3 linked regions of the Homo sapiens genome follow. The protein of the gene in region 1 purifies or fractionates together with the protein of each later gene. This does not show direct contact. Each region holds a gene or a part of one and is shown on either strand. Other genes may lie near its edges.

Region 1 (3,748 bases):
ATAAAAAAATTAGCTGGGCATGGTGGCAGGCACCTGTAATCCCAGCTACTCGGGAGGCTGAGGCACAAGAATCACTTGAACACAGGAGGCAGAGGTAACAGTGAGCCGAGATTGCACCATTGCATTCCAGCCTGGGCAACAAGTGAAACTCTGTCTCAAAAGAAAAAGGGCTCTCCAACAGGTTTTCTGCTTCCATTTCTGCTTTCCACTGGGTCCAAGAAGGTTTCTCCCTCTTCAAGTCATTGTGCAGTTTATTCTGCTCTACTTCTCTAAAGCACAGGACCCTGTTGTTTCACATAGCCTTTGCCTCACCAGTGTTGCCAAACTTCAGCTCCCCACGCTGGGCAACCTGCGCCTGTGCACCATTCAGGTGATGATCTGTCATCTCACAAGGGCTCCAACAGATGCTGGGACCGCCTTTGAGACAGAATGCCAGGCACACTTCTGATATGTGAAAGTATTTCCACCCTTGCAATAATTTAAGAAACATCCGGGCCAGGCGCAGTGGCCCACGCCTGTAATCCCAGCACTTTGGGAGGCCGAGGCGGGCGGATCACGAGGTCAGGAGATCGAGACCATCCTGGCTAACATGGTGAAACCCCGTCTCTACTAAAAATACAAAAAAATTAGCCGGGTGAGGTGGCGGGCGCCTGTAGTTCCCAGCTACTCGGGAGGCTGAGGCAGGAGAATGGCGTGAACCCGTGAGGCGGAGCTTACAGTGAGCCGAGATCGCGCCACTGCACTCCAGCCTGGGCGACAGAGCGAGACTCCGTCTCAAAAAAAAAAAAAAGAAAAAGAAAAAGTAAAAAAAAAAGAAACATCCAGGAATGCACTCATAGCCTGTAAGTTTTTGGTGAAGCTGGTCAGTAATTTTTCCCACACTATCCTGTTTCCTTTTCCCAGATTCCTCCGGGTCTCTCACCTTCCCCTCTTTGCTTACCAACACTGGCCATGTTAATCCTTACCTACTCTACACTGACACCTACATGTGTCTATTTAGAATGGATGTCCTCTGGTCTCTGCCGTCTTATTTCAAATAAGTGTTGATCAGTCGGGAAACACGTCTTGGACACTGATTTCTGGCTAGTACATTGTGTACTTGTATGCAGGAAAGCAAAAAGTATCTAATGAAAGCAGCCCTCCTCCGGAGTTTGCTGAGCCACAGGAACCATAAGCCAAATCCCAGGCGCTTGGATTTCTTAAGAAACAGCCAAGTCTTTGTGTCTGCTTCTCTGGACCCACCGCAGCCCTGGCCAGAGGCAGGCATGGGGCGCCACGTTGAGAGAGCTTCCTAGAGGACTCACCGTTGGCCGGTGCAGGCTGCAAAATGTGCGCAGTGGCGGAGAGACGCTCCTCCAGCCATGTGCACGGCGACAATCCCAGGTAGAGCTGGAATGCAGGCTGCCCCGAGATCCCCACCTGCTGACGCTTCCCCGGCAGGAATCGGTTAAACGGAACCTCTAGTCATCTCGGTTTTAGAGCGGTCTTCACGCCACAGCCCTCCGCGCCCAGGTCCTCCGAAGTTGGGACACCGCCCACGTTTCCCCCGTGACGCGGGCGCGGGGGCTCGGGAGTTGTAGTCTCGGGCAGGGCGCGGGCACCGAGGCCGGGGCTGCGCGGACTCCACGTCCCGGCGGGCGGCGCGGCGAGGCCTGGGGCCTCCAGGGGCGGGGCCGCTCGGCCCTTTAAACCTTTCAGGGCTGCTCCGAGGGCCGCAGCTAGAGTCGGCGCCACGAGGGGGCCGAGCAGGGTGCGGCGGCGGCGGGGCGCTCCGGGGAGGTGCGTACTGGGCTCCTTCCCTTCCTCCGGGCTTCCAGGAATCACCTGGGGACTCTCGCGTCCCGGGTCCTGGGGGGTCGCCGGCCGCAGGGTCCGGCCCCAGCCGGGGTCCCCGCGCCCAGGCGAGCGGGGGCCGGGCCGGGCTGGGCTTTCCGCGTGAACCCGCCCCTCGCCCAGGGCGCCGATGGTCAGGTGGTTGCCTGCGCGCCGCCGACTCGCCACCGCTCCACTGGGCCGGCACCCAGCCTCTCCTTGGCGTGGCCTCTTCGGTTGTCCAGCCCTTCTCCCAGCCCTGGTCCCTCAGAAGGAGGGTAACTCCCTTCCAGATGTTACGGTCCGCCTGCGTCTCTCAGCACGCCGGTGGCATTTGGGTTGACCGCGGAGGCCCCCAGTGCCAGAGGGTGTTCACGTTCTGCCGTGGGCTCAGCCCAAACTTTGGACGCTCAGAGACCCAACGGGAGCGCTGGATAAGGTGTTGACCCCCTTCCCCTCCCCCTTCCCGGCCAGTTACCCACTCCTGGACTTTGATCTCTCTCCACCAGGCCAGGACAGCTGATGGTTGTGGCAGAAACATCTCAAGGTAGCTGGTCCGCCCCCACTTCCCCATCTACCTCTTGTCCTCCCCCCAACACCACCACCACCCTGGCTCCCCTCCCTCATGACCGCCTGGATCCTCCTGCCTGTCAGCCTGTCAGCGTTCTCCATCACTGGCATATGGACTGTGTGAGTAAAGGGGGGTGCCCGGGGGGCAACAGGAGCTTGATGACGCACACAAAGTCTCTTGTCCTGTCATAGCCACGGTGGTACCCAGGGTCACTCTGGGTGTCTCAAAAGCCTGACTTGGTGCCTGGGCACACAGCCCCTTGGGACAAGCTGGCACCACTGCTGTCCAGCAGGGTGGCCCTGACAAATATACTTCTAGCCAGGGCAATTTCCAGAGGGCCTGTAGCTGGGGGCATGCTGCAGGTGCTGGTGTGGCATCAAGCCTTAGGGACCTCAACTTGAGTCCCCAGCAACAATAATGAGGCTGAATGGGGCCAGAAATCAAGGTTGAAGAGAAGGGTCATGGGGTGGGTTGAGTGGGGCTCGGGAAGGCTGCCAGGGTGACAGTTCTGTTCCCACAGGTATGCCATGGCTGTGATGAACCACCATGTATGCCCTGTGGAGAACTGGTATGAAGGACTCTGCAGACAACCTTGCTCTAAAGCTTCCTTCATCTCTGTCCCCTCTTGGGCCTGAGGCTGCCACGAGCCAGACTGCAACCCTGAGCCTCACTGCTCTTCTCTGAAATTGGTCCCCAGGCATGGCTTCTTGCCACCTACCCACTTCCCACTATCCCTTTGCCCCTTTGGTTACTGCTTCAGGCGGGCACTGGGGAGTGGGATCTTCTGTCCCTGTAGGGGAGGTCTGGGAGAGAGTCCTCTTTGAGGCCTGAGGCTATAGGCCAAGGGCCTGGGGGCAGTCCCTTCCCCCAGTCTACTCCCTGTCCTGCCTGCCAGGTCCTACAACGAGTCCTGCCCTCCTGACCCTGCTGAGCAAGGGGGTCCCAAGACCTGCTGCACCCTGGACGATGTCCCCCTCATCAGGTAAGGCCTGGACATTGGGCCGGTCAGGGAGATCTAAGGGCCTCCCAGACAGCCCCTCAAGCAAAGAGCTGTCCTTGGGTCTCAGGAACAATAAGTATCCTAAGAGCCACTTAATAACAACACTACTTGACAGTTACTGTGGGGCAGGCACTCTGCTGAGTGCTTTATATGCATTGTCTCTTTTCATCCTCCCAGGAGTGAGGCAGGTATTGTTTTCACCATTTTATAGGTGAGGAAACAGGCTCAGTCTTCCTCATCCAGGTCACACAGCTAATAAGCGGAGGCACCTGGATTTAAGCTGGAGCCCTCAGATTGCCCAGCCCGTGTTCTGGCTCAAGGATAGCCAAACCAGCCGCAGGGCTCAGCAAAGAGTGTCAGGGTTG
Region 2 (3,748 bases), on another chromosome or scaffold:
GTAGAATCTGAAGTTAATCTGAAGCTGCAGAATATAATGATGCTACTTCGTAAATGTTGTAATCATCCATATTTGATTGAATATCCTATAGACCCTGTTACACAAGAATTTAAGGTGAATACTGTTTAATTCTAATTTACTGTTTTGATTTCCATTACTTTTATATTGGTGGAAAGTGTTACTTTTTTTGATTATAATTATTAAAAATAAGTATGGTGCTATTTGTCATGAAGATTGTAATCCTTCAGTAAGCTGAGACAGTCTTCTTTCCGAAATTTCAGAGAACCTTATCAGGGTTAGAAAAATGGTCACTTTCTATGAGCAACTAGTTTTTTAAATTTTTTTATTTTTTATAGAGACAGGGTCTTGCTATGTTTCTCAGGCTGGTCTCAAACTTCCTGGTTTCTCAGGCAATCCTGCCTCAGCTTCCCAGAGTGCTAGGATTACAGGCAAGAGCCACCACGCTTGGCCTCTATGCAACTTATATTTTTATTTACATATTTTATGTGAACAACTAAGAATTCTAAATTTAGTAATTGATTTGTACTCTGCATGTTTACTTGTTATATTTTAGAGAGAGTGGTCATCTTTTCACTATTTCTTTTATCATTAATATTTGGCTTATCAAAATCAGCCTGGTTGCTCATTGCTTAAAGATCAACAGGTAGCCATAGAATAAAACCAGTTTTGATTTGGAGGTTTTCAAATTAAGTAAATGAAGTTGCTTTCTTGGGTAGTTGATAGAATGATAGCATAATATCAATAGAAATAAATTCTTAGTAACCCTCAATCACAGTTGTTTCAAGGTAGTTTACAATAGGCTTTTCCACTCCTGGCAATATTGACATTTTGGGCCAGATAATTCTTTCTTAGGAGGTAATGTTCTGTGCACTTAGGACATTTAGCAGCATCCCTGTCTTCTACCCATTAGATGCCACTAGTATTCACTTCCCTCAGTTATGACAACTAAAAAGTTTGCTGCCGCTGCCAAATATACCCTGGGGATAGGTGGAGGGCAAAATTGTCCCCATTTGAGAGGCACTGCTTTACATCTTTATTAGAGTAAGAAGGAAGACAAAACTTTCCCACTCAAATGAAAGTAGCTCTCTCATGAGGGAATTTCACCAGAAGGTGAAAAAGTCTTTGTCCACAATATTTAGATTACTTATCAGCTCCTGTATTTTCTCTTAATTTCTGGTAAGAATTCTAGCAGTAGTTTACATATACATTTAGTTGGAAATAACTCACTTATAAAGAATAAGCCTGAGTATGTACCCATTAAGTTTGACATAATTGTTTTCTTTCACAATGACTTTGAGAGAGGAGTGTTGAGGTTAGATCAAAGTTATATTTGTACTTTGTTTTTGTGAAATTGCTGGTTTTACATTCTAGAGTATGTCTTTGAGTAATAACTATCTTCTGATTTTACAAAGATTGAATAACAGGTCAGTTTTTAAGTTTTTTAAGTGACTTGGCTTTGAAAATTGAACTTTCCAAATGGCTTTTGTTTTAACAAAGCAAATAACAGTTTTCTCTCTATTTTTTCTTCCTTTGCCCCTCCTTAAGATCGATGAAGAATTGGTAACAAATTCTGGGAAGTTCTTGATTTTGGATCGAATGCTGCCAGAACTAAAAAAAAGAGGTCACAAGGTGGTACTTTTGATTGGAATTTTGGATTGTTCAATTATTTTTTTATCAATCATTAGAAATATTAAGATATGTTTAATTTCAGGTGCTGCTTTTTTCACAAATGACAAGCATGTTGGACATTTTGATGGATTACTGCCATCTCAGAGATTTCAACTTCAGCAGGCTTGATGGGTCCATGTCTTACTCAGAGAGAGAAAAAAACGTAAGACTACTTATGTCATACATACCAAACTATTCTTTTATAATTCCTATCTTGATTTCTGAAGTAATATTCCAAATAGACCCACAAATTGATAAAAAGATAGAAATGACCAGAAACCCTGTGGTTTTATCAAAAACAAACATTTTGATTTAGTACTAAGAAGTCTTAATTTTTGATTCACAAATATATATATCTTCTGGCACAATCTTATTAATAATATCCTACTTAACCATCACTGTAAGAATATTGGGATAGCAGGAAATTTTTTGCCTTTTTGCCCTGTCCTCAACTTTCTATTATGAAAATATCAACTATATGGCAAAGTTGAAAAAAAAAAAGCAACTGTAAATCCGCCTACAATCTGCTGTTAACATTTGACTATACCTTTTTAAAAACACATTTCCTGTAATAGCAGCCTTGCTGTATCCATTCAGCATTTAATCCTGGTTTTTTGGTGCATTTAAAAATAAAATATAGATGATACTACCCTTTTCCGTAATGACTTCAGCATATTTTATCTTTTGGGGTAAAATTTACACATACTGAAGCAAATAATGTATACATTTGCTGAATCTTTCTGACAAATGCATATGTAAATTTATACCTAACCCCTATTAAGATATAGAATGTTACCATCAGCCCAGAAAGTTTCCTGTGCCCCCTTCTAGTCAATTCTCCCCTGCACCCACCCCATGTGTTTAGACAACTACAATTTTTTCATCATTTTTTGATATTAGCTTTTCTTATTTAAACATTGTTGTGATACATGGTTTTTAACAAAATTAAGATCTCTTTAATATAGGTGCTTGGACGATAAAGCTAACAGCACAGGTTTTGTTAACATAATTGTTTTATAGATCTGAATGATTTGTTTGGCCTCCTTTGTTTAAGTCTTTAATAGTTGTAATTGAAAACATTTTTCTCCTTCAGTCTTGTTGGTTAATTTATTTTAATCTGTTGTATTTACATCCTTTTTGCTTTTAGATGCACAGCTTCAACACGGATCCAGAGGTGTTTATCTTCTTAGTGAGTACACGAGCTGGTGGCCTGGGCATTAATCTGACTGCAGCAGATACAGTTATCATTTATGATAGTGATTGGGTAAGTTGGAAGTATAGCAAGGAATATGCTGATTATATTTCCATTTTGAATTTTTTTTTTTTTTTGAAATGGAGTCTCACTCTGTTGCCCAGGCTGGAGTGCAGTGGCACGATCTCGGCTCACTGCAACCTTCACCTCCTGGGTTCAAGTGATTCTCTTGCCTCAGCCCCCTGAGTAGCTGTGACTATAGGTGTACACCACAATGCCTGGCTAATTTTTGTGTTTTTAGTAGAGACGGGGTTTTGCCATGTTGGCCAGGCTCTCTTGAATCCTGACCTCAGGTGATCCGCCCACCTCGGCCTCCCAAAGTGCTGGCATTACAGGCTTGAGCCACCACACCCAGCCTCCATTCTGAATTTTTTTTTTTTTTTTTTTTTGAGAAGGAGTTTTGCTCTTGTTGCCCAGGCTGGGATTAAGTGCTGGGATTACCAGCATGAGCCACCGCGCCCGGCCATTCTGAATTTTTAATTTTTAATGGTACATGTTACAAATTTACTTATCTATTTTGAAAAGATACCCATTTTCAGCTAAGAGTTATTTCTTCATAAAGTTTTTTGCAAGTAAAAATTGAAAATTTTTTTTTACTTTTGTTTTTAGTGACAGGGTCTCACTATCACCCAGGCTTGAGTGCAGTGGCACCATCACGGCTCAGTAGCCTTGACCTTTTGGATTCAAGTGATCCTCCCACCTCATTCTCTCAAGTAGCTGGGTCTATGGGTGTGCTACCATGCCCACAAAAAATGTAAAAATTAGTGAGACCACGTCTCACTGTTTGCCCACGCTGGTCTTGTATCC
Region 3 (3,748 bases), on another chromosome or scaffold:
GTGTCCTTTCTTTTTTCATCTCACACATTAATGTCTCTCTAGCCTTGGCCGGCTCTCGAATCCTTGCCTAACTTGACTTCTTCCACGTCTACATCCGTGTCCACGTCCTCTCGCATTGCTAATCTCTCTTTTTATAAGAGCTGTTGCTAACAGATTGGCCTTTTTCCTTAAGTCTTTGTTTTTCTTTTTCCTTCCTGAGTTCTCCTGCTTCTATGGCCACCTGGCGGGGCCAGGCAGTGGCACAGGCCCTGCCCCCGCGCACTGCTGTCTCTCCCATTTTCTTCTGATTCTCTTTTTTACACTTACTGTGAGTCTTTCTTTTTGTTTTGCTCTTCTCTTGGCACCGGTCTCTAGCCTCCTCTTTTTTTCTAGATAGAGCTGAGCCGGGGAGAGGAATTTAACCCTTGGCGTGCCTAGCTGCCGCACTTGTTGCTTTTGCTCTTTCCTGTTTTGTTCCTTGGTCACAGCTAACATACGCCTTGGTGGCCACTTTTATAGACTGGGTGATATTCATGCCTGTAGCTTCTGCTTGATGTTACCCTGGGCTTGCTTTACAAACGAAGTATTCACTATATATATATTTATATATATATTTACATATATTTTTTTACATATATATGTAAATATATATATTTACGTGTATATATTTCTATATATTTACATATATTTGTATATATATATTTATATATATTTTTTCGAATATATATATATGCTGATTTTTTTTTTTTTTTTGAGATGGAGTCTCGCTCTGTTGCCAAGGCTGGAGTGCAGTGGTGTGATCTCGGCTCACTGCAAACTCCACCTCCCAGGTTCACACAATTCTCCTGCCTCAGCCTCCCGAGTAGCTGGGACTACAGCTACCCGCCACCACGCCCAGCTAATTTTTTTGTGTTTTTTTTTTTTTAGTAGAGACAGGGTTTCACCATGTTAGCCAGGATGGTCTCGATCTCCTGACCTCTTGATCTGCCCACCTCGGCCTTCCAAAGGGCTGGGATTATAGGCGTGAGCCACCAGCCTCAGGGTTAAATAGGATGTAAAGCCAGAATGCTTTACAGAGTCTCTTATAAAACTGACTTAGGCTCTTGTCAGCTCCTTGAAGCACTTCTGAAATCTTTTTTATATTAATTGCTTTTTTTCTACTACCTCTTAGCCTCTGCAGAAGTGCCTCTTAGTACTGCTGCAAATGCTGAAGCTGAGTTGCATTCTCTGGGTCTTTTTTCCCCTTTTTCCTAGATCTTAACAGGCCCTTTTTTAAATATAATTCTCCATGCAGTTGGAGGGTTAAACAGGCATACTGAGAGTCAGTGTAAATGTTTAGTCTTACCTTCACTGAGTTCTAAGGCCTGAATTAAAGCAATGAGCTCAGCTTAACGACAGTGTCCAGGGTTATCACTGCATATCCTGCACATCTCTCTCCTTGTGGGTTGATGAAGCTGCTCCCGTCCATGTATAGCTCCCAGTCTACTGATGCCCAAGGCTGGTCTCGGAGGTCAGGTCTGCTAGAGTAAACTTGAGTCCAACACCTCTACACAGTTAATGCTCGACAGGGCTCTAGCTGCTGGGAACAAGGTGGCGGGTTCAGGGTGTTTCCAGTTTAGTAGATCAATGGTTAAAAAGGGCTGATAGATGAAAGTCTGTTGCCCCACCCCCTGGATGTGGGCTTGGTCATTATAATAGACAGGTCCTCGTGTCTCCCTGAGAGGCATTTGCATAGCTCCAGCAAGACCAGATCTGAGAGGGCCCACTTGACTATCTTGACTTCCTTCCTTGGCCTCTTGAGGCTCCGATCTTCCCCTTCAAGGTGAGACCTGGGGCATGTTAGCTCCTTAATCTCGTTTCTCAGGGGGCTGTTGGCCTCGGTAAAGGGGGGTAGGCTGGGCCATATGGAGAAAGAATTTCTGTTATCTCTGGCGGCTCCTGCAAAACTGGCTTCTCTTGCTCTTTCTGGGACTCCCCTTTTCAACTCTGTGTCTGCTGGTGCAGCTGTTCTTACTTTCACTTTTGGCTTTTTTGCAATAAGCTGTTAAACAGGGCTAAATTTATGCTGGTTTTTGTCTATATTATATTTAACCATGAATCAATATAAAGGAATTGATCTAGGTCCACTGGCTGTCCTCCAACCCCTGTCACCACCTTAAATACATGGCCAATTGTTCCCTGTCTGTAGTTCCTTCGGTGGGCCATCCAACACCAAAAGAGGGCAATTCTTTTTTTTTTTTCTTTTTTTTGAGACGGAGTCTCGCTCTGTTGCCCAGGCTGGAGTGCAGTGGCACAATCTCCACTCACTGCAAGCTCCGCCTGCCAGGTTCATGCAATTCTCCTGCCTCAGCCTCTTGAGTAGCTGGGACTACAGGTGCCCGCCAGCACGCCTGGCTAATTTTTTGTTTTTGTATTTTTAGTAGAGATGGGGTTTCACCCTATTAGTCAGGATGGTCTCAATCTCCTGACCTCGTGATCTGCCCGCCTCGGCCTCCCAAAGTGCTGGGATTATAGGCGTGAGCCACCGCGCCCAGCAAAAGAGGGCAATTCTAATTCACATAGAGTTCTTAACCTCTGGGGGCTTAACCTCTGTAATCCCCTGCAAAACCTTTCTTAAGGTTCTGTAACATGCATTTTAATAGAGTAAGTTTTGATGATTAGATGACTTTCCTTTTATTTTTCTTCTTGAAATTTTTTTTTAACACAGTTTCTAGCGGAGTGGGCTTACTTTGTGTTTGACCTATTTTTCTCTTGAGACAAAACAACATTCACACTACAAGAAGGAAAGGGTAAAAGGTTACTCACTCGTCTAATTCACACTAAAGGAAAATCAAAACTAAAACCAAAGTGTCATTAAAGGCACACCTGTTTGTCAAGGAATTTAAGCCAAGTCAAAATCAGAACCAAAGCCAAAGTGCCAATAAAGGCACGCCTGTTTATCAAGTAATTCAAGTCAAGTCAAAAACAAAAACCAAAGTATCAAGCATTTCAAGTCAAGTCAAAAACAAAAACCAAAGTGCCGGTACAGGCACGCCATGGGTGATCAGGCCACGCTTCCACTCAAATGGAGTGTGCAAGTTCCAAAGACCAGTCTTACCAAGTTTCAAATGTCCAGACTTAAAGTGCTAGTTCCTTCCCAGTGTTCAGCCACTGCGTTGATCCTCCACGGGGGCTTGCCATGCACCACTCTGACGAGGCATTCCACGGGGGCAAATGCCTACCCGGGAGCACTCTCAGGATCTGCATCGCGCAAGCTGGCTGGAGCCCCCCACAGGGATGCTCTACAGGGCAGGCATAAGCTGCCTAAGGGGCTGGCTTGAACGTCCCTTAATCACCTCGCTTCTCAGTCAGGGAACCAAGAAATGTAGCAGGACGAGCTGCAGACAAAACTCCTCAGACACCGGATTAAAGAAGAAAGAGGTTTATTCGGCCGGAAGCACTGGCAGACTTGTGGCTTAAGAGCGGAGCCCCCCGAAAAAGAAATTCTTGGCCTGTTTAAAGGCTTACAACTTTAAGGGGTCCATGTGAAAGGGTCGTGATAAATCGAGCAAGTGTGGGAAACGTGACTGGGGGCTACATGGATCAGCTAACAGAACAGAAAGTTTTGCAATGCTTTTTCATACAATGTCTGGAATTTAAAGATAACACAAGTAGTTTAGGTCAGGGGTTGATGTTATTATTATTATTATTATTATTTTAACTCCTAGGGCCACGTGGTGGTGCCAAGGTTGTCTGGCTATTTATCTTACTTTTGTTTCTTTCTAACTTT

Evidence for each region.
Region 2: the proteins of TMEM150A (region 1) and HELLS purify together in Homo sapiens (affinity purification with mass spectrometry; 2 studies listed by BioGRID and IntAct, with this or other methods). This does not show direct contact.
Region 3: the proteins of TMEM150A (region 1) and ACOX3 purify together in Homo sapiens (affinity purification with mass spectrometry; 3 studies listed by BioGRID and IntAct, with this or other methods). This does not show direct contact.

What each region holds. Positions count from the first base shown.
Region 1 is NC_000002.12:85,600,638-85,604,385, reverse strand, and holds the start of TMEM150A (transmembrane protein 150A isoform 1 precursor), read left to right. Parts: upstream 1-1,687; 5' UTR 1,688-1,779; intron 1,780-1,991; exon of another isoform or gene 1,992-2,321; 5' UTR 2,322-2,437; coding exon 2,438-2,502; intron 2,503-2,616; exon of another isoform or gene 2,617-2,828; intron 2,829-2,903; coding exon 2,904-2,951; exon of another isoform or gene 2,952-3,278; coding exon 3,279-3,365; intron 3,366-3,594; exon of another isoform or gene 3,595-3,748. UniProt on the Homo sapiens protein: Regulates localization of phosphatidylinositol 4-kinase (PI4K) to the plasma membrane, possibly by reducing the association of TTC7 (TTC7A or TTC7B) with the PI4K complex. Acts as a regulator of phosphatidylinositol 4-phosphate (PtdIns(4)P) synthesis.
Region 2 is NC_000010.11:94,590,663-94,594,410, forward strand, and holds part of HELLS (lymphoid-specific helicase), read left to right. Parts: coding exon 1-114; intron 115-1,566; coding exon 1,567-1,650; intron 1,651-1,732; coding exon 1,733-1,852; intron 1,853-2,836; coding exon 2,837-2,953; intron 2,954-3,748. UniProt on the Homo sapiens protein: Plays an essential role in normal development and survival. Involved in regulation of the expansion or survival of lymphoid cells. Required for de novo or maintenance DNA methylation. May control silencing of the imprinted CDKN1C gene through DNA methylation.
Region 3 is NC_000004.12:8,433,976-8,437,723, reverse strand, and holds part of ACOX3 (peroxisomal acyl-coenzyme A oxidase 3), read left to right. Parts: intron 1-1,756; exon of another isoform or gene 1,757-1,801; intron 1,802-3,748. UniProt on the Homo sapiens protein: Oxidizes the CoA-esters of 2-methyl-branched fatty acids.